Linked DNA regions of Homo sapiens. The protein of the gene in region 6 purifies or fractionates together with the protein of the main gene of each other region. This does not show direct contact. Each region holds a gene or a part of one and is shown on either strand. Other genes may lie near its edges.

The links.
Region 1: the proteins of FOLR1 (region 6) and SRSF8 purify together in Homo sapiens (affinity purification with mass spectrometry, with the first as the bait; one study listed by BioGRID). This does not show direct contact.
Region 2: the proteins of FOLR1 (region 6) and FAM133A purify together in Homo sapiens (affinity purification with mass spectrometry, with the first as the bait; one study listed by BioGRID). This does not show direct contact.
Region 3: the proteins of FOLR1 (region 6) and PRSS3 purify together in Homo sapiens (affinity purification with mass spectrometry, with the first as the bait; one study listed by BioGRID). This does not show direct contact.
Region 4: the proteins of FOLR1 (region 6) and PRPF38B purify together in Homo sapiens (affinity purification with mass spectrometry, with the first as the bait; one study listed by BioGRID). This does not show direct contact.
Region 5: the proteins of FOLR1 (region 6) and TRAP1 purify together in Homo sapiens (affinity purification with mass spectrometry, with the first as the bait; one study listed by BioGRID). This does not show direct contact.
Region 7: the proteins of FOLR1 (region 6) and XPNPEP3 purify together in Homo sapiens (affinity purification with mass spectrometry, with the first as the bait; one study listed by BioGRID). This does not show direct contact.

What each region holds. Positions count from the first base shown.
Region 1 is NC_000011.10:95,065,435-95,069,925, reverse strand, and holds the start of SRSF8 (serine/arginine-rich splicing factor 8), read right to left. Parts: upstream 3,008-4,491; 5' UTR 2,700-3,007; coding exon 1,851-2,699; 3' UTR 1-1,850. UniProt on the Homo sapiens protein: Involved in pre-mRNA alternative splicing.
Region 2 is NC_000023.11:93,680,694-93,684,407, forward strand, and holds part of FAM133A (protein FAM133A), read left to right. Parts: intron 1-3,714.
Region 3 is NC_000009.12:33,794,021-33,798,534, forward strand, and holds the start of PRSS3 (trypsin-3 isoform 2 preproprotein), read left to right. Parts: upstream 1-1,540; 5' UTR 1,541-1,553; coding exon 1,554-1,593; intron 1,594-2,622; coding exon 2,623-2,782; intron 2,783-3,808; coding exon 3,809-4,062; intron 4,063-4,347; exon of another isoform or gene 4,348-4,465; coding exon 4,466-4,514. UniProt on the Homo sapiens protein: Digestive protease that cleaves proteins preferentially after an Arg residue and has proteolytic activity toward Kunitz-type trypsin inhibitors.
Region 4 is NC_000001.11:108,691,134-108,695,304, forward strand, and holds the start of PRPF38B (pre-mRNA-splicing factor 38B), read left to right. Parts: upstream 1-1,176; 5' UTR 1,177-1,458; coding exon 1,459-1,734; intron 1,735-2,456; exon of another isoform or gene 2,457-2,509; intron 2,510-4,171. UniProt on the Homo sapiens protein: May be required for pre-mRNA splicing.
Region 5 is NC_000016.10:3,658,477-3,662,190, reverse strand, and holds part of TRAP1 (heat shock protein 75 kDa, mitochondrial isoform 1 precursor), read left to right. Parts: intron 1-58; coding exon 59-204; intron 205-3,325; coding exon 3,326-3,398; intron 3,399-3,714.
Region 6 is NC_000011.10:72,190,785-72,194,966, forward strand, and holds the start of FOLR1 (folate receptor alpha precursor), read left to right. Parts: upstream 1-1,355; 5' UTR 1,356-1,389; coding exon 1,390-1,557; intron 1,558-4,182. UniProt on the Homo sapiens protein: Binds to folate and reduced folic acid derivatives and mediates delivery of 5-methyltetrahydrofolate and folate analogs into the interior of cells. Has high affinity for folate and folic acid analogs at neutral pH.
Region 7 is NC_000022.11:40,884,646-40,888,359, forward strand, and holds part of XPNPEP3 (xaa-Pro aminopeptidase 3), read left to right. Parts: intron 1-1,667; coding exon 1,668-1,870; intron 1,871-3,714. UniProt on the Homo sapiens protein: Catalyzes the removal of a penultimate prolyl residue from the N-termini of peptides, such as Leu-Pro-Ala. Also shows low activity towards peptides with Ala or Ser at the P1 position.

The DNA.
Region 1 (4,491 bases), about 23 Mb from region 6:
TAGGGCTGCCCCGTCCCCGTCCCACTCGGTCCCATTTAATAAATATACCTCACCTCCCTTCGCCACCTGCTGGACGCGAGGGGCTACTACGATGCCATGGGTGTCCTGATTTTTTATTTCTCAGACAGGACTGCTCTGTGTGTGTCTTTGGATTCTACGTAGATTTATATTTGTAAAATATTACATTTGTCATGACCAGAAGAAATGTCATTATCGTAAAATTTAGATTCTGGAGTCTATATATGAAAGCAATACTAACTACTAACTGTTATAACAACAAAATGTGGGATGTATATCTACAGACCACAGCCACCTTGCCAGTTCATTCAAGAATCGAACCCTGGATTTAGCAGTTTCTGCACAAAGGGAATGAAATATTTTTAATTGATAATTCAGTCAAAAATATTAATGAAGATCCATATGATTGAAAGAATAAATTTATTCAATTGGCTCCAATGTAATCCTATTGTCACCAGATCATTGACACCAAATTGTTATTTTTCCCTTTGCTAGTAAAGGTATAAGCAGAAACAATTGCAAAAGAACACATAACATCTAGTAGGGATAATGATGAAAGCCAAAAATGGATTATTTGAAAATAATTTTGGAAGTAAAAAAACCATAGGTGTGAGGAAAAAAGAGAGAAACTACAAATAAACTGCATTGTGATAAAACAATAAAGCACATAGCTAAAAGCCTATTAAGGATTTTTTAAAAATTATATTTTGAGAAACACTTGGTGCTAATAATTTTCTCAAAAGTACAAATATCCAAAAGTCATACAGAAAATAAAACAACCTACTTTCCATCAAAAGTTTCTAATTTTATTCTGAGAAAAGATAACACCAAGAAAACAATTTTAACTACAGAAACAATGGTTAGCGTAAAAAATTAATAATCAAAAAGATAAACCATGTTATAAGTACTTAACAAACTTATAAACTATTTCTTCCATAACATTCTCCATATTTTAAGTTCATACATGTTGATATGATCAGATTTACAATTTTTCAGAAAAGACGGGGGAAAAGGTGTGATTATCGTCAGCTAGATGTGCTCACTGCATGCTCCATTATTTATCTGCAAGGCCTGGGTGACTGGAAGTGCAGTTGACAGGCATTTTAATAAACTGGACAGCCATTTGTTCTTCAGGACAAGGCGTGTTTTCCCCAGGAGCAATCAGAAGAAAACAGGAAGCAGCTCAGCACTCTGCACTGCAACAGGCCACCTTAATAGCTAACCAGCATCACTCAACTGCTACGCAGCCGGGCCTGGTGCACAAAAACACAAAAGAGATTAGACCTGTGTTTGCTAAAACCCCAGTCCTTTCACATGAAAAATCTTTATACAAATTTGGGTCACACTACCTTTTAGACCTGGAGGTAAATAAAATTATCCATATTAATTTACACCACCTTTTGTAGGTTTTTAAGGAATGAAGGCAATGTTGAAGCATGTCTTGACAGCGTTAGGCTGTGTGTAATGGCTGCACACGTTTCCTTAAAAGTCAGGAGGCCACAAATTAGGTTACCAATCTGTTCATTTCAAACCAAAACAGTCATCACTATAGAAATAAAAATAAATTTTTGCCTCAAATATCCAAACCCAATAACGTAATCTTAGGTCGTTCACCTCCTAAGTTACAATAAAATGTGAATAACAACAAAACGGCACATAGAATGAATTTTGCCACCTGATGCAAAGCTTCAAACTGGCAAAAAGGTAGAAAAGTGTGACACAACCTTTTCAATAGGCAGCCTCTTCTTCCAGGGACGTTGCTTCCATAGACTGAGTATGTGATCCTTTTCCCCCAAGTCCTCCATCACGTTGCTTCCTGATGCATCATTTTCTTAAGAGGACATCTGTCCTTCCTCTTCAGGAGACTTGGGGGGCCTCTTGGATCGCGACCTTGACTTGGATTTCCTCTTGGATACCCGGGGAGGACTCCTGGTCATAGATGAAGACCTGGACCGCGAGCGAGACCTGGAGACCGAGGAGGACTTGGATCGTCGCGCAGAGCTCGATTTGGAGGTTGATGCAGAGCGAGAGCTAGTGGAGGACCCAGACTTCGAGTGAGACCGGCTGCTGTGATATCGGCTGTAGCGAGAGTTACTGTAACCAGATGAGCTGTAGTGAGATCCGCCGTAGCGAGATTCCCTGTAGCGAGATCTGCTGTAGGGAGAGCGGCTGTAGCGCGACCGGCTGTAAGGAGATCGGCTGTAGGGAGACCGGCTATAGCGAGAACCCCTATAGCGAGATCGGCTGCGGGACCTGGAGCAGCTGGGACCCCGGGATCGGCTGCGGTGTCGCCGCCTGGGGCTGCGGCTCCGCCGCCCGTAGCTGCGGCTCCGCCGTCCGTAGCCGCCGCCTCTGGACCTGCCGCGTGGCTCTCCCTGGCGGCTGCGGGGCAGGTCCCGGCGGCCATAGCGCGCCACCTGCACCCGCAGCTCGCGTCCGTCCAGCTCCGCCCCGTCCATGGCGGCCTCGGCGTCTTGGGCGTCGCGCCGGTCGTGAAAGCGGACGAAAGCGAAGCCCCGGGGCGCCTTGGTGTGGGGCTCCCGCGGGATGTACACGTCGCCCACGCGCCCGTACTTCTCGAACACGCGCCTCAAGCTGTCGGGAGAGGTGCGGTAGGTCAGGTTGTCCACCTTGAGGGTGATCATGCCGTCCACGTCGGGAGGGGGGCGGCCGCAGCTCATGGCTCCGAGAGCAGCCCGGGCCCGGAAACTGGCGCTGCTCTGGGCGCTGACGGTGCGACCTGCGTTTCTTTCTCGCGGTTGCGCCCCGCGTGGGGACGCCGGGAAAGGCCGGGCGGAGAGGCGGGCGGCGGAGCTCCGCAGGGAGCGCCCTGGAGCAGCAACTTCCGAGTTCCCAATTTCAGGCCAAATACTCCAGGACCCAGAGGAAGGTTTCCTTTTGGTAGCTGAACTCCAAATGAAGCCAGGCCCCGAAGATCCTGGCCTTGTACCTGGGCAACATCCTAACCTAATCAGCGCCCAGCTAATGTAATCACTGGGCTGGATTTACATTAGACGTCCCACCCTCCCATGCTCCTCCCTATTATTCTACGTTTTAAACCAATCTTAAGAACAAAGCTAACTGATTAAAGGTCAATTTATGGGAACAGGCAATCCAGACAAATATTAAACAAAAGAAACCTAGGGCAACAATATTAATATCCAGTGTATTGATAGGATCAAAGGAGCACATTTCATAGTTATTGAAAAGAAAATTCACTAGGAAAACATTACAGTGATGAACTTAACGCACCTAAACACATAACAGTGACACATAGCCAAGACTGAGAGTTATAAGGTAAAACTGAAAAATCTGCACTCATGATGGAAGTTTGTTTTTTCCCCGTAACACCGTTTTCTCAGAAATCAATAGTGCAGAGAACAAAACTAGTAATGCTATAATAATTTGCACAACAAACAACAATTTTGATCATATAACCTGCAACAACCAAAAATATATAGAAAACAGAAGAATTTCCCAATACAAGACTACAAAATAAATGTCAATTAAAATTTAATAGGTCAATAAATTCAGCACATCTGGACCTCAGTGAAATAATATTGAAGGTTAAAAATAAAAAACCTGAATCCAATCATATTTACTTGAAAATTAATAACCACATTTCTAAAACTTTTTTTATGTTGAAGTCAAGCAATTAGTAAAACAAAACCAAAACAAAAAATAAAACATTAAAATAAAAATAGAATTACAAATAAAAGGGACAATATGTTTTTTTAAAAAGATGATTAATAAAACTGAAATCTAACACTTTTAAAGAAAAAAACAATCTAGCAATACTGATGAAGAAATACAGTTTCTAAATCTGGAAAGGAAATATACAGAAAGGGCCTAGAGCATCTTGGAGTGCTGGAAAATAAGGATGTGATAAATAGAAAACAAACAAAAGCATTGATGGGGTAATTTTAGAGGGGTACAAAAACCAATAAAACAGCTCCCAATGGCCAAATCTTGAACAATTTAAGGAACAAACTAAAATACTACTATATCATATTCCAAAATATAAAATAAATATTAATCTGTGCTGTTGTAAATAAATGATTAAATAAATTAACACATTGGAGAAAAGAGAGAAAACTCCTCTGCAGGAGAATTCTAAATTAATTAAATTAATTAAAACGTTGCTGATTTTGAAAATGTTATGTAACCTTATATACATAGAATTGTGCTTTTTATATTTTAATGTATTTTGTGTTTTATTTCCCTCATCTATGTGTTCCATGTAGCTGTACTTGATCCTGTTACCTTGCCGTAAGGCATTCAATGGTATAAATGTTTGTGCTGTTGATGGGCACTTGGGTTGTTTCCACTTTTGGCCTCTTACAGTGTTGCTCAGAACATGCTTGGACATGTATACTGGAGCTCATGTGTCCTCTTAGGTATGAATGGATCCCTTGTCACAGAATACAGGCAGCCCACTGTAACCTCTGGCTTCAGCATCAGTGAATTCAGCCA
Region 2 (3,714 bases), on a different chromosome or scaffold from region 6:
AGTGATGTCAAGTATTTTTTCATATACCTATTGGCGATTTGTATGCCTTTTGAAAAACATCTCTTCAGATCTTTTACTCATTTTAAAAAATTATGTTTTTTAAAATTACTGAGTTGTTTGAGTTCCTTATATATTTTGAATATTTAACTCCTTATCATATGTTTGGTTTGCAAATATATTCTGCCATTCCATACGTTGCCTCTTTACTCATTTACTTCCTTTATTGTGCAAAAACTTTTTAGTTTGATGTGATGCCTTTTGTCTATTTTTGCTTTTGTTGCTAATGCTAGTTTTGAATGTACAAACAGCGTACATTTTTCAAAAATGTAAAACCACATCACGGAAGAATACTTTTACAAGGGTAATCAGGAATTTTTTGCCTGTAGTACTCATCTGAAGAATTTCCATCCTACAATTCAAATAAAGCAAGCCTTTTTATTGCAAGTTTGAAAGTATTTTATTTAATTTTACTATAAAGGAAGAAAAAATCCAAAGACTTTGAAAAATGGACAATGTTTACAATATATATAGATATATCTTATGTGCATATGATATATATGTATATATCTTATATGATATCTTAGATATATTCTGTCTATCTATCTATCTATCTATCTATCTTTGCAATGGCTATTTCCCCATTTTGCAATTTATTTGGACAAAATGGAGGAAGCCCAAAGTGACATTTTCTGCTGATTTTTTTCCAGACTATCCAAATATATTTAATTAATTTCATTAGGTACCTCCTCTCAGAAAAAAAGTAGTTGTTCTCCATTCTGGCAGATGTTTCTATGAAAGTATATGTTTAGTAAGTAGTATAGACTAATGCTTCAGCAAATCTAGTATTGATACTTTCAAGGTGATGATAGCTAACACTTCACAATTCTCTAAGAAGTGAGTAAACAAACAAGATGTCAATGAACTAATTGTTGCTTTTGGTTAAAAAATCTGCTTGTCAGAGAAAGAAGAAATAGAGGCCTACATTCTCTAGATTCATTACTTTGATTTAGCAACTGTCTTAAAACAGGTGTAAACAAAATTTTAAAATTATAATATTGACCACTTTTGTCTGTCTTCTCTTATAAGCAGCATTTGTCTATCTAAAAGAATAAGCATTTTTTTGTTTGTTTAGAGGTAACTGGATACCTTAATTAAAACTGTTTCATTATCTACATCATGAGAATGTGTTTAGCCTTCTTTGTAAGAAAGATTAAATATGACATGACAAGAGAATTACATAAATGATTAGACTATCTGACCAATCTGCTTGTAGCAGCCCCCAAACTGCCCCTTAGCCTCTCAGATATGCTATACATAGTTCTTTGAAAGGTCTTTCTGAAAACACTTATATCCTTGCCCTAATCCCAAATTTTTAGTGATACTTCACTGTCTTGAATCAAACCAGTGTATAAGTACAAGCTGTGTCCTTTACCCTCCAGTGACCTTGGGCACATTTCTTAACTCTCTATGCCTCAATTTCCTCATCTGTAGAATGGGGATAATAATAGTACCCATCTCACAGAGCAATGGTGAGCTTGAAATGACATAATACATGTAAAATTCTGATAACATAGTGCATGTCCAAACAGTTTTTACTAAACTTATCTTCTCCAGGAATAGTTACCCAGTGGAACATAGTTCTTTAACTCTTTCTTTCCTTCAGAGCTTATTTGCTTGGAGTGTATTACATTTTTGTGAGCTTTATGATAAACATTATAACAGAACCACATAGGTCATTTATTGTGTGTACACACACATGTTCTTTTCCTATGTATATTTTAAATTTACCTAGGAAAAGGACCAAGATATTTTCTTATTTATAATCCTCTGTCCTTGCTCAGAGTATTGCTCTGCACAAGAATACATTTAGTACTGTACTAATTAACTTCTTAAACAAATGAACTGGCTTCCTTACAGCAGTACCATTTTTTCTTTTTTTGAGACAAAGTTTTGCTCTTGTTGCCCATGCTGGAGTGCAATGGTGTGATCTCGGCTCACTGCAACCTCCATCTCCCGGGTTCAAGCCATTCTCCTGCCTCAGCCTCCCAAATAGCTGGGATTACAGGCGTTCACCACCATGCCCAGCTAATTTTTGTATTTTTGATAGAGACGGGGTTTAACCATGTTGGTCAGTTGGCCTCGAACTCCTGACTTCAAGTGATCCACCTGCCTCGGCCTCCCAAAGTGCTGGGATTACAGGAGTGAGCCACCGCGTTCAGCCAGCAGTACCATTTTTACTTGCTGTTCAAATAAAATTCATTTTTAGCCTTTAATTGCACTCTAATTTTATTTAACAGTTGTCTCTTAATTGTGCCTGATTTACTAATGTGTAATTGTCATGCAACAAATTACATTAGTTTACTAAATTTTCAGGTTTTAAAGAATTGGTGTTTTACCAACCAACTTCTAAATAGTAACACCTCACAAACTATTAATAGTTAGGAGGACACACAGAGTCTTCAGAAGAAAAATTTTGAAATCTAATGATGATCCACATTTAATATTAAATTAAAATGTCTGTTTATTTAACCCTTTCATTTCATTAGTATTTTCTTTCTAAAGGACAGTATTTTAGATAAGTATTGCAAAATTGCTTTACATATAATGAGCATTTAAAGGAAAATATAGATCAGAGTACCAGAGCTTATTTTAATAAACAGTACTCTATCTCATAAAATGGCTACCCTAATAACCCAGTTACTTTTATTCTTATCAGAATCTGTTGCTTGAATTAAGCATAATCAAACTTGCCACATTGCCTTTTCCTGTCTCATAAATTATGGAAAACAACTTCCCTCCAATTTCTTTATTGTTTGAAAAATACTTTTCTTTGGAAAGTCAAATCATATTTCTATTATAATCATAAAAATTATGCATGCTTGTTTTTTGAGGAACCTCCATACTGTTCTCCATAGTGGCTGTACTAGTTCACTACTTAAAGTGTATAAGAGTTCCCTTTTCTATGCATCATCACCTGCATTTGTTAATTTTTATCTTTTTTATAATAGCCATCCTAACTGGGGTGAAATGATATCTCTTCGTGGTTTTGATTTGCATATCCCTGATGATTAATGATGTTGAATATGTTTTCATATATTTGTTGGCCGTTTGCATGTCTTCTTTTGAAATGTCTATTCAGCTAATTTGCCAATTTTTGAAATGGGTTTTTTTTTGGCTGTTTTGAGTTCTTTGTATATTCTGGATATTAATTCCCTGTTGTATGAATACTTTGCAAATATTTTCTCCCATTCTCTAGGTAGACTTTTCACATTGTTGATTGTTTCCTTTGCTGTGCATAAGCTGTTTAGTTTGATATAGTCCCATTTGTTTACTTTTGCTTTTGTTGCCTGTGTTTTTGAGGTCTTATTCATAAAGCCTTTTCCCAAACCAGTGTCCTGAAGCATTTACTCTATGTTTTCTTCTAATAGATTTATAGTCTTGTGTCTTACATGTAAGTCTGATCCATTTTGAGTGTATTGTTGTATAGGCAGAGAGGTGGGGGAGTCTAGTTTCAGTTTTCTGCCTATGGTTATCCAATTTTCCCAGCACTATTTATTGAAGAGTCTGCCCTTTCCCAATGAGTGTTCTTGGAGCCTTTGTCAAAAATCAGTTGGCTGTAGATATGTGGATTAATGTTTTGATTTTCTGTTCTGTTCTATTGAACTACGTGCCTCTTTTTATGCCAGAAGTCAATTTTTTTAATACAAAAATCAG
Region 3 (4,514 bases), on a different chromosome or scaffold from region 6:
TGGCTTTGGGGAAGCTGGCTCGTTGGCCATGCCAGGAGCTGAACCTGAAGGTACTCTGTGTGTCCTCTCAACTCCACGGGCCCCACATTCGCATTTTTTCCAATTCCCTCTGGTTTCCATTTGCTTCCTCCCTCTAGCCCCCTGGCCATGTCCGATCTCAACACGAAGTTTCTGAGCTTTTCTCATTTTGTTCACCATCTCCAGAACATCTCTGCTTCTTTTACTTTTCAAAGAATTTAAACTTGAACTCTGCTCACTCCTGCCCATCACCAACCTGAGCTCAGAGTTGCTGAGAAGGGAAAGCACCCTCATAAGGAAGCTCCTCCTTTCCTTACATCATTAGACTTGATCACAGACAGCATCTCCATCTCCACACTACTCTGGCCAGGTTGTGCCTCAGTCAATTACACAACTGTGTCTTAGTAGCCTTGGTAGGGCCCAAATCAGGATATTCTCTGGGAAGATTCACTTGATACTAAGCCCAGCATAATCTCACTGCATCTAAAATAGAAAATTCTAGACCCACCCCTCCACATCTTCTTATTGATCCCAATATGTGACCCATTTACCATGTGCTAAAATCTCTACCTACTGCTGATTCTCAGATCAGATGGTAACCCAGATTTACCATGGTCCAAACTCTGACATCTGATCAGGGGCATGTCATTCTGGTTCAGGCTGTCAGCCCTGAGCAGGTGAGTCAGTTTGCATCACCCTAAGTGCAGGTTGCCAGGACAACCGTGAGGCTGCATAAAAAGAACCTATGACAGGATGCACATGAGAGAGACAAGTGGCTTCACATTGAAGAAGGGGAGGAGTGCGCCATTGGTTTTCCATCCTCCAGATGCACTGAGTAAGCTCCTACCTAACCTGTGTCCCCTCCTTCTTTGAAACACTTCCCATCCTTTTAAGCCTTGGTAGGAAGGAGAGCCATCTGGAAGCCCAGAATCCTATGGAATGCTAAGTCTCCCTTCTCCTTACCCCTTAGTGTTGGAATTCTGGATACCCAAAGTCTTGGATTTGACCTTTGTGCACAGTGACTGCAAAGAAGCATATTCATATTCACAAAAATGAGCCTTAGATAAGACTTTCCTCCTCTCGTGGGGGCTCCAGGAAACTGAAAAGCCAAGCTTGTTACCAATGCTTGCCCTTCCTTAAGTACATTATTAAATACATCCCCAATAGTTAAAAGGACTCCTAGACACCCAGGCCATTCTCCCTCCTTCTAACCCTCATCTCCTCGGCCTACGAAAGCCCAGCTGTGTGATCCGGGGATTGGTTTCCCCTGTCTTCCCCATCCCAGCATCCTTCCAGGAAATAGCCAGTCTCCCTCTCTGCTCTCAGAAGGCAAGTTTCCTTATCACCTGTGAATCACAAACCCACAGAGTGGCCAAACGTAGCCGAGCTGATGCAAGACCCTGGCAAGGGGAAAGCTGCAGGTGTGTTTGTGCTGGGAAGAACTGTGACCCTCACCTCACAGACACCTCCTCTCCTGATTCTTGGAAGGGTATAAGGACAGGCCTTCCACCACCAGTCAGGCACACTCTACCACCATGAATCCATTCCTGATCCTTGCCTTTGTGGGAGCTGCTGGCGAGTTTCATGACCTGCCTCAGGCCCCACCCACCCCCTTTCCTGGCAGACACATGCCCTGCCATTCTTGCCACCTCTCCTCTTTTGACTGCGCTCTGATATTCTATTTCCTCCATCTGACATATCTCCTTCCCATCCTCCTTGGGCTCTCTTTAAGCCTCACCTGTTTCACCTTTTCCCTCATTTCACTCCCACCACTGTCATTCATCCATATCCGAGCTGTGGTTGGAGAAGCTGGGAAGGGAGACCAGGTGGGGCTGGCCCATGAAATGAAGTGGCAGGCTTCAGGCTTGGCTCCAAGAGCACCAGTATAGCACCACTATAGCTGCTCTTAACCTCGAATGCACCTGGGGAGGTTCAAAAATTACTCATGCCAGAGATTCAACTCTAGAAGTTCTAACTTCATTTGTCTGGGGTGCAGCCTGTGTACTGGGCTTTTAAGCTTCCCAGGTGATTTTTAACGTTTCCAGGCATGCCGCCAAAGTTAAGAATTGCTCTTCTATTGGCCAATAACAAAGTCTACCTTTGTTATGCCAAAGTGAGCCTGGGGCTGCCCTCAACTCTGCCCTCACTGCACAGATCTGAGCTATGGGGGAAGCTAGTCATGGCCAGGTCTACCCAGACAGGGGGTTTTCCTAGCTTAGCCAAAGTATCCTGACAATCCAGGGCTCAAATAGCCAGGGCAAGTACACAGGTGATGAATAAAAGAGAGAAGCACTCAGTGGGTGAGACAACAACATACCAACTGCTACCCCACTGGAAGCATTTTGAGGACATTCCTTGCATCCTCAGCCTGGTGTCCCCAGGAGAGATCTGAGCCCCTGCAGGGTACCTAGCTACGTGCCCTGCAGACACAGAGACTTGGGAGCCACATCCAGTGATGCTCACCAGGGGTGGCAGCGCTCCCTCCCTTGCCTGGCCTCACTGGGCTTGTTAAGGATTTCTAATTGGCAGGAAGCAACCGCAGGCTGGGAGCACCACCCCTAACATGCTACTGACTTGCCTTCTCCCTTCCTATTTCCACTCCAGTTGCTGTCCCCTTTGACGATGATGACAAGATTGTTGGGGGCTACACCTGTGAGGAGAATTCTCTCCCCTACCAGGTGTCCCTGAATTCTGGCTCCCACTTCTGCGGTGGCTCCCTCATCAGCGAACAGTGGGTGGTATCAGCAGCTCACTGCTACAAGACGTAAGTGTGGGGCCCCTGACTGCAAAGCTCCCAGCCAGGCTGCCTGGGAGAGCTTGGCTTCAGCCCAGGGAAGTACTGAGGTTGGGTAAGACGGATGGGAGAGGTGGTGGAAAAGAAAACTTGTTGACAGCAGCTGACTCTCCAGAGCAAGGCCAATCCATGAAACAGCAAGGGTTGTGGTCATAAAAGCAGGCAGGGATAATCTTGGAGTTGTCAGAGCTAGTGACAAAAGCAGGCAAGTACCTTTTGCTGGTTAGCTACACATTAAAGCGACCTAAGACAGAGTTTTTGAAAATACTGATGCCTGTGTCCTACCCCAGGGCAATTAACTCAAACTTCTCAGGAAGACAGTGTGAATACCAGTGAGTATTTAACACTCTACCTCTGGTAACTGTAGAGTGTATAGACAGAGCTGAGAACCGCTGCCTACACGAAGAACTCTCAAACCTGAGTATGCGTCAAAACCACCTGCAGGCTTATTAAAGCACAAATCACTGGGTCCCATCCCCAAGGTTCTGATCAGCGGGTGGGGGTAAGGACCAAGAATTTACATTTCTAACAAGTTCCCAGGAGATGCTAATGCTATGGCTACCCTTGGATTAGATTACACAGAAGGGTGGTGCTCACTAGGCCAAGAAGGGAGGGAGGAACAGGCGCTGTGCGCAGTTAGCAAAGACCTGGGGTGAAGAATGCTGGGAAAACTACGAGGAGCTCTTTGTGCCCACAGTGCTAGTGACTGTGGAGATTTGTGGGAAAGAGGCTGGGAAGGCAGGTTGAGGAGCAGCCTCTGGTGGGATCCCTTTGACTCTTCCCCACCCCACTACCACCAGCCTCTGAAGCAGAAAGGTCCTGGGTCTCACACCTGCACTGACCCACATCCCTCTCCTGCCCATGCAATATGGCCACACACCCCACCCCATGCCTCCAGAGCTATCCATGAGCAGTGAGCTTGAGGACCCTGGGGAAGGTGGGAGGGGTGCCCAGGCTGTGGGAGAAGGTCTTCACCATGCCTGCCCTGCCCATCAGCCGCATCCAGGTGAGACTGGGAGAGCACAACATCAAAGTCCTGGAGGGGAATGAGCAGTTCATCAATGCGGCCAAGATCATCCGCCACCCTAAATACAACAGGGACACTCTGGACAATGACATCATGCTGATCAAACTCTCCTCACCTGCCGTCATCAATGCCCGCGTGTCCACCATCTCTCTGCCCACCACCCCTCCAGCTGCTGGCACTGAGTGCCTCATCTCCGGCTGGGGCAACACTCTGAGCTTTGGTGGTGAGTGGGACCCTTTGTCCTTCTACTTCCCCCCATCCTCACAATTTCCAGAACGAAGCATGCCCCTTTATTTGAATCCTCTTGCCTCCCGGCTTAAGACACATTTCTAGTGCCCATTACACACAGTCTCTGCACTGGGCACCAGAGAGATGCAAAGTCTCAAGGACTTGGCTCCTAAAATCAAGAGATAGGACAAATGGAGAACTTGCTGTGATCACGTCTTGGGAGGGGTTCAACAATGATCATTCTGGAAACTAAAAGCCAGAGTCCCTTGCCAGAACTTACGTTTTGGAGTCCTCTCCAGAGGCAGTGTTCCTCTTCAATGTTCCATCCCAGATTATTGTCTCCTTCTCTGGCCTCACCCACATTTCTACTTTCTTTGATCTCTTCCTGATCCTCACAGCTGACTACCCAGACGAGCTGAAGTGCCTGGATGCTCCGGTGCTGACCCA
Region 4 (4,171 bases), on a different chromosome or scaffold from region 6:
CAAACTCAATAAACTAGTATTATCAAGGCAAAAAATATATACACAAAAAGAACTGGGTTAAAAAAAATTTTTTCTATGGACTTTTAACGTGATAACTCATGACACAGGGGTTAGGATCTTCAGTTTTCCTTTGGAAGTTAATAAAAACCACTATAGAGAAAAACAAGATTTGCTAGTAAGAAGGTGAAAACTGCTTCTCCTCTCAGGGTTCTAGTTCTCTTGCAACCTAAAACAAAGGAACCAGACAGGATATCCACTTTCGTACCGTACAGCTCCAAACACTAATCAATCACTCCATTCACTTATCTTTTCTATTTCCTTGTATTCTGTCAAACAACTGTCTCTTGGTTTAAATACTTTTCTGCTGGTCTTCGCTCTCTCTCTCTCCTCTTCTGGTTTATTTTCATCCAGATGTGGATTTTCCCCAAAGTTTCCATCTTATCCTTTTCTCCTCCTGTGTATGCGCCACTGAAGTCAAGATTGCCACATTCAAACTCCCCACACATTCACACACCCACTCCCAATATACAGTATCTCGCCCAATGTTTATCACTCCGGATACATTCCTAGAATCCAAAGATCTGGAGCAGGGAGAAAAAGAAAAGGCGCCTACCAGATGCCTGGAACAGTCTACTAGGCACTACAAGTACATTAGCTCTTTCAATGCTCACAACAGCCCAGCCAGATGTTATCTCAATCTTACGGATGAATAAATTTAAGACTTCTGGCTGGACACTAGAGGCTGGCGAAGTACGTGACCTTTGATCAGAATCTCCTGGAGGAGTGGGGTCCCTGACCATTGTACCTTCCAGAGAACCTTAAAACTGAGATCCCAGGAGACCCCTCTCGGATACTCTGCAGAAGTCAGAGTGACGATATTAGCAAGCACACCGCAGCCATGCGAACCCTTCCTGGCTCAGCTCCCGACAAAAGAAATCAAGCCCCCAGTCAAAATACAACAACAACGGATTAGGCCTACAACCCTCTCCCCCGGCCCCCAAATTCTCAGGAGAAATCCCCTAAGAGTCAGGTACGGAGGTCACTGCAGCGACTTCAGCGTGCAGAGAACGCGGGGACCTAGGAAGAGGACGCTCCAGCCCAACTGAGCGTCTCTGATTGGCCGCCAGCTCAGCTTGGAACGCTGGGGTGCGTGGCGTCATATCCGCCGGGCCCGCCATCTTGTTCCCAGGGGCAGTTGGCGGAAGAGATCGAGCTCCCTGGCTGCCGGCTCGCCTTCTGCGTGGAGTTCTCGCGGTCTGGGTTTCGCTGTCTGCTCTTGGCCCGGGGTCATTTTGTCGGCGTCGGGTGCCCTCTCTTGCCCAGCTGGGGCACAGCGAGGCGGCCCCTTCTCCCGACGACGTTCGATGGAGTAGGGTCCCAGACCGTTGTCCCGAAGAGCGAGATCGAGCTTGGCCCCCTCCCCCCCCTCCTTCCCTCCCTCCTTCCTTCCGCCGCAACATGGCTAACAACAGCCCCGCGCTGACAGGCAACTCGCAGCCGCAGCACCAGGCGGCTGCAGCTGCGGCTCAGCAACAGCAGCAGTGCGGCGGCGGCGGCGCTACCAAGCCGGCGGTCTCCGGCAAGCAGGGCAATGTGCTCCCGCTCTGGGGCAACGAGAAGACCATGAACCTCAACCCCATGATCCTGACCAACATCCTGTCGTCGCCTTACTTCAAAGTACAGCTCTACGAGCTCAAGACCTACCACGAGGTGGTGGACGAGATCTACTTTAAGGTACGAAGTGTGTAGGCCTTGGCTTTGGGGGTAAGTTCGGAAGAGGGGGTATGGAGGAAACGGGCGAAGGCGGCCCCCGAAATCTGAAGATTTGTGGGTGGGGGAAGGTGGTTCGGCGGAGGGGTGGCTGCGGCCTGTAGTGTGTCTGGGAGGGGTCGGACTGGGGCCGCCCTCTCGTTTCCATTTTAGATTTTTAGGGCCGGGAGAGCCCGCCACTATTGATCTCTCTCCTCCCCCAACCTCCTGCCCACCCCTGGGGGGAGTTGGGCAAGAGGGATGGGGGAGAGGAGGAAAGAGTAACAGAAGCCTTTCCAGTTTACAGCTTTAAAATTATTCCTTTTGACGTGGATCTGCTGAGCGCCAACTTGTTGGTGCTTCTCCCGCTCACCCCTGGCCAGGGCGTGTAATGACTTCAGTATTGGCCTCGTGTTGTTGGTACTCACTATCCGATCCAGGCAGGGAAATGGTCAGTGCGTGTGTGTCGGGTGGGGTGGGGGGATGAGGGTGGAGAGGTGCCATTTCAAGAGGTGTACAGAAGGCCTGGAAATTTTCCCAGCAGGAAGTCAGGAGTAAGAGGTCTCAGCCACCTGTGCATTGGGCTAATTTAGAATTATCTGGGCCCTGGGCTTCTGCGGCAGGGTCGGTGCTGGCTTGGCTGTGCTGGGGAGCTCACCTGGCGCCTCCTCACTGCACTCTTGTCTCAGTTCTTGTTTCGTTAGCAGGATTGACTCAGTCTTGCAGCGAGGCTCGGAGCAGCCCAGGGTCGCAGGTAGAGGTATGCACTATTAATCATGCTCAATCGCCATAAATGCATTTCCCTGGTTAAATGAACGACTAATTAGATTTTTGTGGGTTTTTTTGGCCATTGCTTTTGGTCCTTCACCAATTAGGTAGGCTTTTTCCACTTCCCTGCAAATTATGTAGTATAAAAAATACCTTCCAGGCCTCCGAAAGTTAATTTCTATTTTAAAGAATATTAATAATAGCCTTAGTGGTCTTTAAAAATTTTATCCGGAGCATCTAATACACAATCCATTTTTGTCTATATTCACTCTTAAAAACTTGACAGACCGCACAAAGTGTTTTCTATCATTTGAACGTATGTGTAGAGATGGTAACAAAAGGACATTCTCTTTTGTCTTGCCCACCTTTTCCCCCAGTTGAGTAATTAGGTTATTGAAGGATTTTGAGAGATTAGTTGCTTTTTATAGAAAACATCTCTTGAATACAGTTCAACTTTGGGTTGATAAAGTACACAAATAAATTTGGAATCCTCTTACGAGAGTAGGTCTGATTGTAATTCTATGAATTAGTTTTTTTAGCTTTTAAAAGGTAAGACCTTTTTAGCATGGATACAGTATGGTGAATAACATTTAATCCTTAGCTTTATTTATGCAGTAAACTTTAAACAGTTGAAAATTGGGTTCCTGCTCTTTCTGCGGCAGGTTCTGTTTTCTAACATAGGCAAAATGTTAATGTAATAGAGGAAAGTCTCGTTTTTAAGTTTCAAATGTGTTTTGAAACAAGATTCTACCAGGAATTGTTTTTAAATTCCGTTAAAAAACTAAAGACCCAGTTTTTTTACTAATATTAAGAAGACTTAAGACTTTCAGATCAAATACTCACTGAAATTTATAAGTTTCCAACTTTGTAATTTTATTTTGTATGCATCCAGCCCTGCCTTTGGCTAGCTTTTAAGGAATTGAAACATCTTTTACATGGCAATCTGTGGGGAAGAAAGGAAACGTTAAAGCACTGCAAAATAGTGTAGTGCTTAAACTTACATGCACGCTTTTCTATCTAAAGCCATTGTTCAGGACTACAAAATTTACCATGTGGGTGGAAATAGAATTTTAGAAATATGCAGTGAAAAAACAGGATTTTTTTTTATGTTTTTAAAAAAAAACAAAGATGGGTCTTCCCAAAAGACCTTTTTGGATTCTATTTTAGAGTTAATATTCTTTTGTTGTTGTTGCTGTTGTTGTTGCTATTTTTAGATAAGGACTAGTTTTTGTAAGATGTTCCTCTTAGCAAATATGATACTGTATCATCTTTGATGATACTTAGTATATGCCAGTGACTATTCACACTCAGTTTTTGACACAATTTATATTCTGGGGAATAATTGGATTGGTTCACACATAATTAGGCTGAAGCTTAATTACAACAATGATCTCTGTAAGTGTGGCCTTTGTAATTTTATCTTTAATCAGGAATAAACCTGACCCTGGTGGAAAAAATGTACAAATAAAAAGTTCCATAATTTTGCATCACAAGTAACTCGTTACTGTTTTAGAAAATTTTCTTCAAGTAATTTTCCTTAATTTTATAATGTAGATTTTAAATTACAATAAAATTGAACTATTGAAGGTGTTTTGAAGTTTTTAAATTAATGCTTAACGTTAATACTTTTTGCTTTAAATTGGAGACTTAAATC
Region 5 (3,714 bases), on a different chromosome or scaffold from region 6:
TGCCAGCCCTCTCACATTGGGAACCTCTATCACCCTCAACCCCGGGCTTTGCTCACAGGTGACCCTCCGACTGGACACCCACCCTGCCATGGTCACCGTGCTGGAGATGGGGGCTGCCCGCCACTTCCTGCGCATGCAGCAGCTGGCCAAGACCCAGGAGGAGCGCGCACAGCTCCTGCAGCCCACGCTGGAGATCAACCCCAGGTGAGGCCACGCTCCTGGCTCTTCCAGCCTGTGGGATTCCCCAGAATCCTGTGTGTGGTGTTCTTTTGTTGTGGAATGTGACACAGAAGAAAAGTGCGTGAGGCCTGTGGACATGTGGGTAACTATAAGGAGCTGTATGCAGTTTAGGCTGCACCCATGTGAAATGGAACCTGGCCAGCCCCTTACCATCCCCAGGTGTCACCTGGGAGGTTAGCCACATCCCAGCCTGTGACCATGTCCTCGTTTTGCTTTATGGCTTTGCCACCTGTGCGTGTCCTGGACATGCTCAGTTTTGCCTGTTTTGAGCTTTGTACGTGGATCTTGGTGTTTGCTGAAGTCTCACGTTGCTCACTTGGCATGAGGGTTGCCCATGCAGAGGGGCTGCCACAAGTTCATTTTCATAGCCGAATAATGTCCGCTGCAGAAACCCACCTCGGCACAGCAGACTGCTCCGTTCTGCTCTGCTGGGCCTCCGGTGGTTCTTGGTCAGAAGTTGTGGAGAGCCAGGCTGCTCTGAGTATTCTTGTCCACGTGTCTGGGGCTTGTGTGGGTTTCTCTGTGGCCCCGGTGGTGGGAGCTGCTTCCAGGGTGCACCGAGAACCCCCCAGCCCTGACAGTGGCTGAGCCGTAAGATTTCCCTCGTTTCTTCCTGTTGTTCTTTATATGCCCTTTATCTGTTGTAAATGTCTTTTCACCTGCCTTTAGGTATCTTTTGAGTTTCTTTCTTTTTACAGTATCACTTCTTTGCACCCATGAATGTGATCTATTTAGGTCTTTAACATCCTTTGGTACCTTACATTCTCTGTAGGGTTCTGGTACCATTTTTAAAGAATTATTCTTTGATGTGTCTTATGGGGTATTTTAAAATTTCATTTTCTAACTTGTATATGAACTAACTTGTATATGAAGTTTCTTTTTTGGGGGAAATTTTGAATGTAGCAATTTTTTAAAAAATGAAGTTACATAAACATGTTACCAAAAATAGAAAACAGCAAAAAGGAAATCAAAATCCATAGACTTACCACCCCCCCCACAATGTAGCCTAAGTAGTATTTTAATTTTTGAGACAGGGTCTCACTCTGTCCCCCAGGTTGGAGTGCAGTGGGGCAATCTCAGCTCACTGCAACTTCTACCTCCTGGCCTCAAACAATCCACCTGCCTTAGCCTCCCGAAGTGCTGGGATTACAAGTGTGGGCTACCACCCCCAGCCAGTTTTTGTTTTGTTCTTTAGTACATGTCTAGTTTTTTTCTTTTGTCATTTTACAACCATAACTTTTAAAATTATACTGGAGGCGAGGGAGATGCATCTTCCTAGCCATGGCACTCCTGGGGAAAGGCTGACTTGGCTTATGGCTGTCAGTGCACAGCAGCGCCAGTATGCAGAATGCCTGTGCCTCTGCTGGAGCAGCTCAGTGAGGCGGACACCAGGTCACTTTAACTAGTTTTGGTGGCAAACTAGTTTTGTGAGATAGCTGCAGAAGTGCTCGTTTCTGTCTGTTGCCACTTCACTTTTGGAGACAGGGTCTTGCTCTGTCACCTAGGCTGGAGTGTACCAGTGGCGCCATCAGAGCTCACTGCAGCCTTGGCCTCCCAAAGTGGTGGGATTACAGGCGAGAGCCACTGTGCCCAGCCAGCTTCACTTTCATTTGTTTTAAAATTTGGTGTTCTGTCCACATAGTTCAGAATTCAAAACTGCTTACAGGGGAAAATTTCCTCCTACCTGTGTCCCCAGTGCAGCCAGCATTAGGGCTTTTGTATTTCTGCAGAGATTATGTGCATTTGTGGGCAGCTGCGCCCGTGGGCTTCCAAGGGGGAACTTGCTGTGCAGTGGGTCCTTGCCTTGCTTTTCTCCCTTAGGGTAACTAGGTGACCTCCACATTAGCATATTAAGAATGTCCTTTTTTTCCAGCTACGTAGACTAGAAATGTGAGGATGTGCATTTGAAGTGTTTCCTCTGTTAGGTTGGGTGCGGTGCCTCACGCCTGTAATCCCAACATTTTGGGAGGCCTAGGCGGGTGGATCACTTGAGGTCAGGAGTTCGAGACCTCATCTCTACTAAAAATACAAAAACTAGCTGGGGGTGGTGGTGGGTGCCTGTAATCCCAGTTACTTGGGAGGCTGAGGCAAGAGAACCTCTTGAAACCAGGAGGCTGCGGTGAGCCAAGATCATGCCATTTCACTCTAGCTTGGGTGAAGGAGTGAGAGTCTATCTATCTATCTATCTATCTATCTATCTAAAAAAAAAAGTGTTTAAAGGGATGCAGTTAGGAAATGGAATGGCTGAGTCTCAGCATATCATCCACATGTGGTTTTCCCGACTCCAGTTGTCCTCTGGAGAGGTTGTACAAATTTACAGTTCCCCAGAGCCCTCGGTTTTATCAGACTTCTAAGTGAAAAATTATAATATTCATGTTAAGGTTAAATACTACATGATGCTTTTTCCTATGCAGAAAAAAATATTGTTCTGACGTCAAATATGTCAATCATTCTTTACTTTTTGGTTTGTGGTTTTGCTTGGAAAGGCTTTCCCCTTCTGAGATGATGAAACATTTCTTCCCTAGAATTGTGCTTGTCATCTTTGATCCCTCTGGAATTTACTCTGGTCTAAATGGTTTTCTGCATGGCTCCCAGTCATCCCAGTGCTGCTGGATGGAGTGATCTGTCTCCTCCCTCTTCTGTGAAATACTGTCCTCATCAGACACTCAGTGTCCACCCTCGTTACATGGAGTTGTTTGCCTTCCCCCTTTCCAGACCTAAACTGTTTTATTTACTAGAGCCCTATAATATGTTTCAACATGTGGGTCTTACTCCCTTCTCTTTTATTATTTATCTAGGAACCAAGGCATGTCTTCACGTACTAAGCTCCTTTTGTCCCTTTAGTGTATATTAATCTTGGAGTTTGGCTACCTTACAGCATTTTCTAATACTGACACTCCTGATTCTCTTGGGTTTTCTGGGTATATAATGATATTATCTATAAATGATCATTAACATACCTTATTTAAAAAACTACAGACAGTCTTACTGTGCTTCTTTAAATATCCTGATAATCCCAAAACATGAAGGGAGGGTCACAGCACGTGGTACTGAGCTGCTTTTTCTGGTGGGTTCTGTGTTGCAGGCACGCGCTCATCAAGAAGCTGAATCAGCTGCGCGCAAGCGAGCCTGGCCTGGCTCAGCTGCTGGTGGATCAGGTGAGTGCAGCAGCTTAGGATGACTGCAGGGACCCAGGCTACCAGCCCTGCCAGCCTGCCTTCAGGGTGGAACAGCGGTTTCCTCTAAAATCCTGTCTTTTTGTTTGTTTGTTTGTTTTTTGAGATGGAGTGTTGCTCTGTTGCCAGGCTGGAGTGCAGTGGCGCGATCTTGGCTCACTACAACCTCTGCCTCCCGGGTTCAAGCAATTCCCCTGCCTCAGCCTCCCGAGTAGCTGGGACTACAGGCATGCGCCTGGCTAATTTTGTATTTTAGTAGAGATGGGGTTTTCACCATCTTGGCCAGGATGGTCTCAAT
Region 6 (4,182 bases):
TCAATTCCAGGCTTATATGAGCCCTGCTGTGCAGTCGGCCTGGAGACAGCCCAGCTCAGGCCCTGCCTAGACCCCTGTCAAGGAGGCCCTGTCAAGAGGAGAGGAGGGGCAGCACGGGGGCAAGGCAAGCTTGTGAGCGGGAAAGGCATGTCCACTTTAGCGACTGGTATGTGGAAGATGAGTTAGAGGAGACAGATGGAGAGAAGTCATAGGAAATAAATTCTGAGCATTTTAGGAGGGCCCAGACACCTGGTGTCCAGTGGAGTGAAGGAAACAGTCGCCTCCCAAAATTCAGTGTCTGAGGTCAAAGGATTGAAGTTCTGTGATGACCAAGGAGAAGCCAGCTCTGTGGTAGGGGGCACAGGAGCTCCCCAAGGCCCCAGGGCTGTCCAGCTGGCTGTCCCCTGCCAGCACCCATGTCCTGTGACCCCACCCCACCAAGATCCCATGGTTTCCGGGAAGGGCCTACTAAACTAGCTTGAGTGATGAGGCTAGAAAGGGGCTGGGACCAAGGTTTAAAAAGCAAAACAAACTAACAAAAACCACACTGCAGCCCCCCCAACTAAAACATTTTTATAAACTTTTTTTTTTTTTTTGAGATGGAGTCTCGCTCTGTCACCCAGGCTAGAGTGCAATGGCACAATCTTGGCTCACTGTAACCTCCACCTCCTGGATTCAAGTGATTCTCCTGCCTCAGCCTCCCACGTAGCTGGGACTACAGGCACACGACACCGCACCCAGCTCATTTTGTATTTTTAGTAGAGACAGGGTTTCACTATGTTGGCCAGGCTGGTCTCAAACTTCTGACCTCAGGTGATCCACCCACCTCAGCCTTCCAAAGTGCTGGGATTACAGGCATGAGCCACCGCGCCCAGCCCATTTTTGTAAACTTTTACAATGAAGTAATTTGGTGTCAAAATCTGACCTGAAAATTAATGTGAGTTTATGTATAGTTTTAATTTATCCCACTAGTGTAACTGTTTCACCCCAGAATATACACTTGATTATTGGGTATATGAAAATTATATTTTCTTTGAATCACCTTTGATGAAATCCTAAAAAATTTTAACCCTGAAACATTTGAATAAGGCATTGTGGACCTATGGCAAACTCCTGGCTATTTCTGCATTTTGCCCAAATCCATCCTTGAATTATATCACCTGAACCTCGTGACCACCTGGAGAAGGCAATGAGGCTCAAGCCAGGGAGGGGTGGTGTCTAATCCTACCTTTCATTGGATCTGGGAAAACTGAGGGAGATGGGGGCAGGGCTCTATCTGCCCCAGGCTTCCGTCCAGGCCCCACCCTCCTGGAGCCCTGCACACAACTTAAGGCCCCACCTCCGCATTCCTTGGTGCCACTGACCACAGCTCTTTCTTCAGGGACAGACATGGCTCAGCGGATGACAACACAGCTGCTGCTCCTTCTAGTGTGGGTGGCTGTAGTAGGGGAGGCTCAGACAAGGATTGCATGGGCCAGGACTGAGCTTCTCAATGTCTGCATGAACGCCAAGCACCACAAGGAAAAGCCAGGCCCCGAGGACAAGTTGCATGAGCAGGTGGGCCAGGGGGTGATCTGGGGTGGTGAGGGACTGGCTCAGGAAGAGGAAACGAGGACATGGAAATGCCAAACCCCATTCACTGGTGAACTGAAGTGGAGGAGCCCTTCAGTTTGCATTAATATGGGTGACTATTTCACAGACACTGTGCCAAATGTCGGTACAATGCCAACAGTTCACCTTCTTGGTTGTTGAGTTTCCGCATTACAGAAATAAGGAAGCAGGCCCAAAGGAGAGCCTGGGAAATGAAGTTGGAGTGACCCATCCTGGGGTTGCTTGATTTAGGGATTTAGACTGGGAATGACTCCTCCAAAGATCTGAGGGAAGAAACTGCACACTGTGCATAGTGGCCTCTTTTCTGCCAGCCCTAAACAGCTCAAGAAGGGAGAGTCTCTCACATTATGAGGCTGTGTGCAAAGCATTCTTTTTTTTTTTTCCTGAGACAAAGTCTCCATATGTTGCCCAGGCTGGTCTCAAATTCCTGGACTCAAGTGATCCTCCCACCTCAGCCTCCCAAAGTGTGGGATTACAGAAATGAGCCGTACGCCCTCCTGAAGCATCTTGGTTCATGCATCTCGCAAAACTTTGGGCTGTGTCTCTCGACCACATTGGACCTGAGGTCTCCCTATAACATTTATTTTGCTACCACCCCTTTAATATCCTGAACATGATGATATAACTAAAGAAAAAGCAGAGGAAAAGTAATTTGTAGGCCAGGTGTTACGGCTCACGCCTGTAATCCCAACACTGTGGGATGTCGAGATGGGCAGATCACTTGAGCTCAGGAGTTCGAGACCAGCCTGGGCAAGATGGCAAAACCCCATCTCTACTAAAAAATAAAAAAAATTAGTCAGGTGTGGTGGCACATGCCTGCAGTCCCAGCTACTCAGGAGGCTGAGGTGGGCAGGTCAGTTGAGCCCAGGAGGCAGAGATTGTAGATCGTGCCACTGCACTCCAGCCTGGGCAACAGAGTGAGACCTTGTCAAAAGAAAGAAAGAACGAAAAAAAGAAAGAAAGGAAGGAAGGAAGGGGAGGAAGGAAAGGGAGGGAGGAAAGGGAGGGAGGAAAGGGAGGGAGGCAAGGGAGAGAAACTTGTAATACGCATTTCTTTTTTTTTTTCTTGAGATAGAGTTTTGCTCTTGTTGCCCAGGGTGGAGTGCAGTGGCACAATCTCAGCTCACTGCAACCTCCACCTCCCAGGTTCAAGTGATTCTCCTGCCTCAGCCTCCTGAGTAGGCACACGCCACCACACCCAGCTAATTTTTTGTTTGTTTGTTTGTTTTGTTTGTTGGTATTTTTAGTAGAGATGGGGGTTTCACCATGTTGGCCAGGCTGGTCTCGAACTCCTCACCTCATAATCCGCCCCTCTTGGCCTCCCAAAGTGCTGAGATTACAGGTGTGAGCCACTGCGCCCGGCCTTAAGTGCACATTTTATTTATTTATTTATTTATTTATTTATTGAGATGGAGTCTTGCTCTGTTGCCCAGGCTGGAGTGCAGTGGCACAATCTCAGCTCACTGCAACCTCCACCTCCCAGGTTCAAGCAATTCTCCTGCCTTGGCCTCCAGAGTAGCTGGGACTATAGGCACCTGCCACCATGCCTAGCTAATTTTTGTATTTTTAGTAGAAATGGGGTTTTGCCATGTTGGCCAGGCTGGTCTCCATTCTTGACCTTAAGTGATCTGTCCACCTCCACCTCCCAAAGTGCTGGGATTACAGGCACTATGTGAGCCACTGTGCCGGCCCACATTTTAATATTTAGCTTGTCAGCCTTAAGTAATGAGATTCAGGAAGCTTGAGGATAGGCACACAGGAGCATAGTTTCAAGTTGTCCTGAATTTTGCAGCCATCACAAGTTAGTTTTTAAGGAAAAAGATTAGTTCCTAAGTTGTTTCTCAATAACTTATAATAAAATAACATCCACAATTGATTGGCTATACATTGTTTTTTTGTATCACAAATTCCACAAACAGATAATGGGTGAGGCAGCTAGTCAGGGACAAAACACTTCCCAAGTAGCTGGGATTACAGGTGTCCGCCACCACACTTGGCTAGTTTTTTGTTTGTTTATTTTTTGAGATGGAGTCTTGCTCTGTCGCCCAGGCTGGAGTGCAGTGGCATGATCTCGGCTCACTGCAAGCTCCACCTGCCGGGTTCACACCATTCTCCTGCCTCAGCCTCCCAAGTAGCTGGGACTACAGGTGCCAGCCACCACGCCCGGCTAATTTTTTGTATTTTTAGTAGAGACGGGGTTTCACCATGTTGGCCAGGATGGTCTTGATCTCTTAGCCTCGTGATCCACCCGCCTCGGCCTCCCAAAATGCTGGGATTACAGGCGTGAGCCACCGCACCCGGCCTAATTTTTATATTTTTAGTAGAGACGGGGTTTCACCATGTTGGCCAGGCTGGTCTCAAACTCTTGATCTCAGGTGATCCACCTGCCTTGGCCTCCCAAAGTGCTGGGATTACACAAGTAAGCCACTGCACCCAGCCTGGGGTTACAATTTAAATTGCTTTTTTACCTTCAAATCTTTGACACCTCAGTGAGGCTTAATCTGACCGCACTATTACACTACAAGTCCCCATCCGTCTCTGCTTAATTTTTGTCCAAAGCAAAAATCAGGT
Region 7 (3,714 bases), on a different chromosome or scaffold from region 6:
ATTGAAAGGTTTAAAAACCTTTAAAAAAGTGAGCTATGATTTCATACACTTTGAACGTGTAGTAGAGATTGTTTTACTTTTTAAAAATTACAACAATTGGCCGGGTGCAGTGGCTCACGCCTGTAATCCCAGCACTTCGGGAGGCCAAGGGAGGTGGATTGCCTGAGATCAGGAGTTCGAGACCAGTCTGGACAACATGGTGAAACCCCGTCTCTACTAAAAATACGAAAAAATTAGCTGGACGTGGTGGCATGCGCCTGTAATCCCAGCTACTTGGGAGGTTGAGGCAGGGGAATTGCTTGAACCAGGGAGGTGGAGGTTGCAGTGAGCCGAGATCGCGCCACTGCACTCCAGCCTGGGTGACAGAGCAAGACTACGTCTCAAAAAAAAAAAAAATTACACGACAATTAAATTTCCATCTATCGTAAGTAGGAAGGTGTTTCCCATGTAGTATATATTTAGAACCATTTTTATTTTAAAAATGAAAATATGTAGGACATAGAATCACATAGGACATAGAATCATAGAATCAGTGCATATCCAATCAAAGTTTTCTGGATTTTTTCCCCTCTACTTTCCCCAAAGTACTTTTTAGTCATATAAAATATTCAGACCTTCTCACTTGGATTGTTAGGAATACTGTTTGTAGCCTACTGTTAGAAAAAAAGAACAAATGTAGATCTGATATTAAGTGCAAATCATTTTTATAATGAGCCTTTATATCGTATATCTTAGGCAAATACAGACCATTTCCTTAGGTCTCTAAAGTTGAAAGCTGAACTGTGATTGTTTACAAAGAGAATGTATAGCAGATGCAAAGGGAGAAGTGAGGAAATATCAACTGTAGTTTTTCCATAGCAATGAATAATTGCTCCAGAATGGGAGGAGAACCCTTTCCTCTAGTACTGAGATCATTATGTGAAAGGATGGGACACTTTACCCATAAAGTCATGATCTGAGTATGTTTTTCTGTCCTTCTGTGTGCAATTATTCAACAAGTGCCTCTAGCTCAGTAAGTGGTGGTGAAGAACAGTTGTTCTAATTGTTTAATAATGAAGGCCGGGCATGGTGATTCACGCCTGTAATCTCAGCACTTTGGGAGACTGAGGCGGGTGGATCACAAGTCAGGAGTTCGAGACCAGCCTGACCAATATGGTGAAACCTCATCTCTACTGAAAATACAAAAATTAGCTGGGCATGGTGGCGGGCACCTGTAGTCCCAGCTACTTGGGAGGCTGAGGCAGAAGAATCGTTTGAACCTGGGAGGCGGAGGTTGCAGTGAGCTGAGATTGTGCCACTGCACTCCAGCCTGGGCAACAGAGCAAGACTCCATCTCAAAAATAAAGAGAGAGAGAAAGAGAGAAAATCAAAGCTTGACTAAAGCTTTAGTCCCGTATCATCCTTTATAAAGAACACTGAAGTTTAGGGGCAGAAAAGCTGTATATTCAGTCTTAGAATATCTTGCCATTTCCAGGGAATGACCTTTCTAATGATTTATAATCAAACCTTTATTGCTTCAGTCCTGAGAGAGTCTTAAGTCTCAACACTTTAGAGTTCCACGTTACAGGTTTTATAGTTTTGACTCTTGTTCAAGTCGTTATGACAGTTGATATTTCTTGTTGCTGGTAGTTTTGTTTTAAATTTATTTTTCGGCTTCTCATTCTAAGCTGAGACGAACATGGTTTGGTATGACTGGATGAGGCCCTCACATGCACAGCTTCACTCTGACTATATGCAGCCCCTGACTGAGGCCAAAGCCAAGAGCAAGAACAAGGTTCGGGGTGTTCAGCAGCTGATACAGCGCCTCCGGCTGATCAAGTCTCCTGCAGAAATTGAACGAATGCAGATTGCTGGGAAGCTGACATCACAGGTATGATTCCTATTGAAAAGTTTTTTCCAGCCGGGCGCGGTGGCTCACGCCTGTAATCCAAGCACTTTGGGAGGCCGAGGCAGGTGGATCATGAGGTCAGGAGATCGAGACCATCCTGGCTAACATGGTGAAACCCCGTCTCTACTAAAAAAACATAAAAAATTAGCCGGGCATGGTGGCGGGCTCCTGTAGTCCCAGCTACTCGGTAGGCTGAGGCAGGAGAATGGTGTGAACCCGGGAGGCAGAGCTTGCAGTGAGCCGAGATCGGGCCACTGCACTCCAGCCTGGGCGACAGAGCGAGACTCCATCTCAAAAAAAAAAAAAAAAACAAGAAAAAAAGAAAAAGTTTTTTCCAGATTGGAAAAATCGTAAGCTCTTGAGGTCGTATACCCAATGCAGCAGTCTCCTCACCGCAGAATGGCATCTAGCTTCTGCTCCAGTGTGTAGTGAACATACCTAGAGACTTGCTTAATACCTTGCAAGACAAAGTAAATCTGCCTTCTGTTAAGATGGTTCTTTTACCCATCAATCTTAATTATTTCTCCTTAGAACGACAGAAATTAATACTGTTTCTTTTCCTTATAGTTACACTAATAGTGTCAGTTAAACAGTTTGGTTCTAAGAAAGACTCAGGACCCAAAGTGACAATGCTTACAGATCTGCAGTTTATTATAGGAAAAGGGTAAAAAATAACCATAATATGAAAGTAAGGATATATATCACAGCCAATGGCTGTCTCAAAGCAAGGAGTCTAGAGAAGCCAGGTGCAGGCTTCTCTGGTCCTCCCTAGGTGAGGGCCAGGCAGGATGTATCTTTCTCTTACAGATTAGGAATCACCAGTGTTGTCATACTCTGCTCAGGCTGCCATTACAAAATATCACAGTCTGCATGGCTTAAACAAGAGAAATGTATTGTCTCATAATTTTGCAGTCTGGAAGTCCGAGATCAAGGTGCCATCATGGTCCATTTCTGGTGAGGGCTCTCCCGGCTTACAGAAGGCGGCTTTCTTGCTGTGTCCTTACATGACAGTGAAAGAGGGCCTTTTTACAAGGCCATGGTCCTATCAAATTAGAGCCCCACCCTTAATTACCTAATTTAACCTTAACTACCTCCTAAAGACATAGAGATTAGAGCTTTAACACATTAATTCTGCGGGAAACACAATTCAGTCCATGGCACATGCAACAGACTACCTCAGAATCAGAGACTCCAAAATGGAATCTCAGCTAGGGATTTTTGTTTTTTTGGTCACATAATCATATTCCTGCTACGTAACAGTAAAGCCCCCCGAGAGTTTTCACAGAGACCAAGTGTAAACCATAAATCTCACTGGCAAACTGATAGAAACTATCCCAAAACTCCCTATTTCATTTATTCTCTCCAAGGTGTTGGCCATTGACTTAATTTAAAAAAATCTTTTTACTGTGGTGAAATGTGCATAACATAAAATATATCATTTTAACCGTTTTTAAGTATGCAAATCAATGACATTAAGTACATTCACATTGTTGTGCCCACTTTTTCCCGACTTTCTCCATCATTCCAAATAGAAACTGTACAGATAAATAATAACTTCCCATTCTCCCCTCCTCCAGCCCCCAGTAACCTCTACTTTCTCTGTGAATCTACCTATTCTAGCTACTTCATATAAATGGAATCATACAACATTTGGCTTTTTGTGACTGGCTTATCTCACTTAGCATAATGTTTTTAAATTTCTTCCATTAGAATTTCACTTTTGTTTTTTAGATAGAGTCTCGCTCTGTTGCCCAGACTAGAGTGCAGTAGCATGATCACAGCTCACTGCAGTCTCGACCTCCTGGGTTCAAGTGATCCTCCCACCT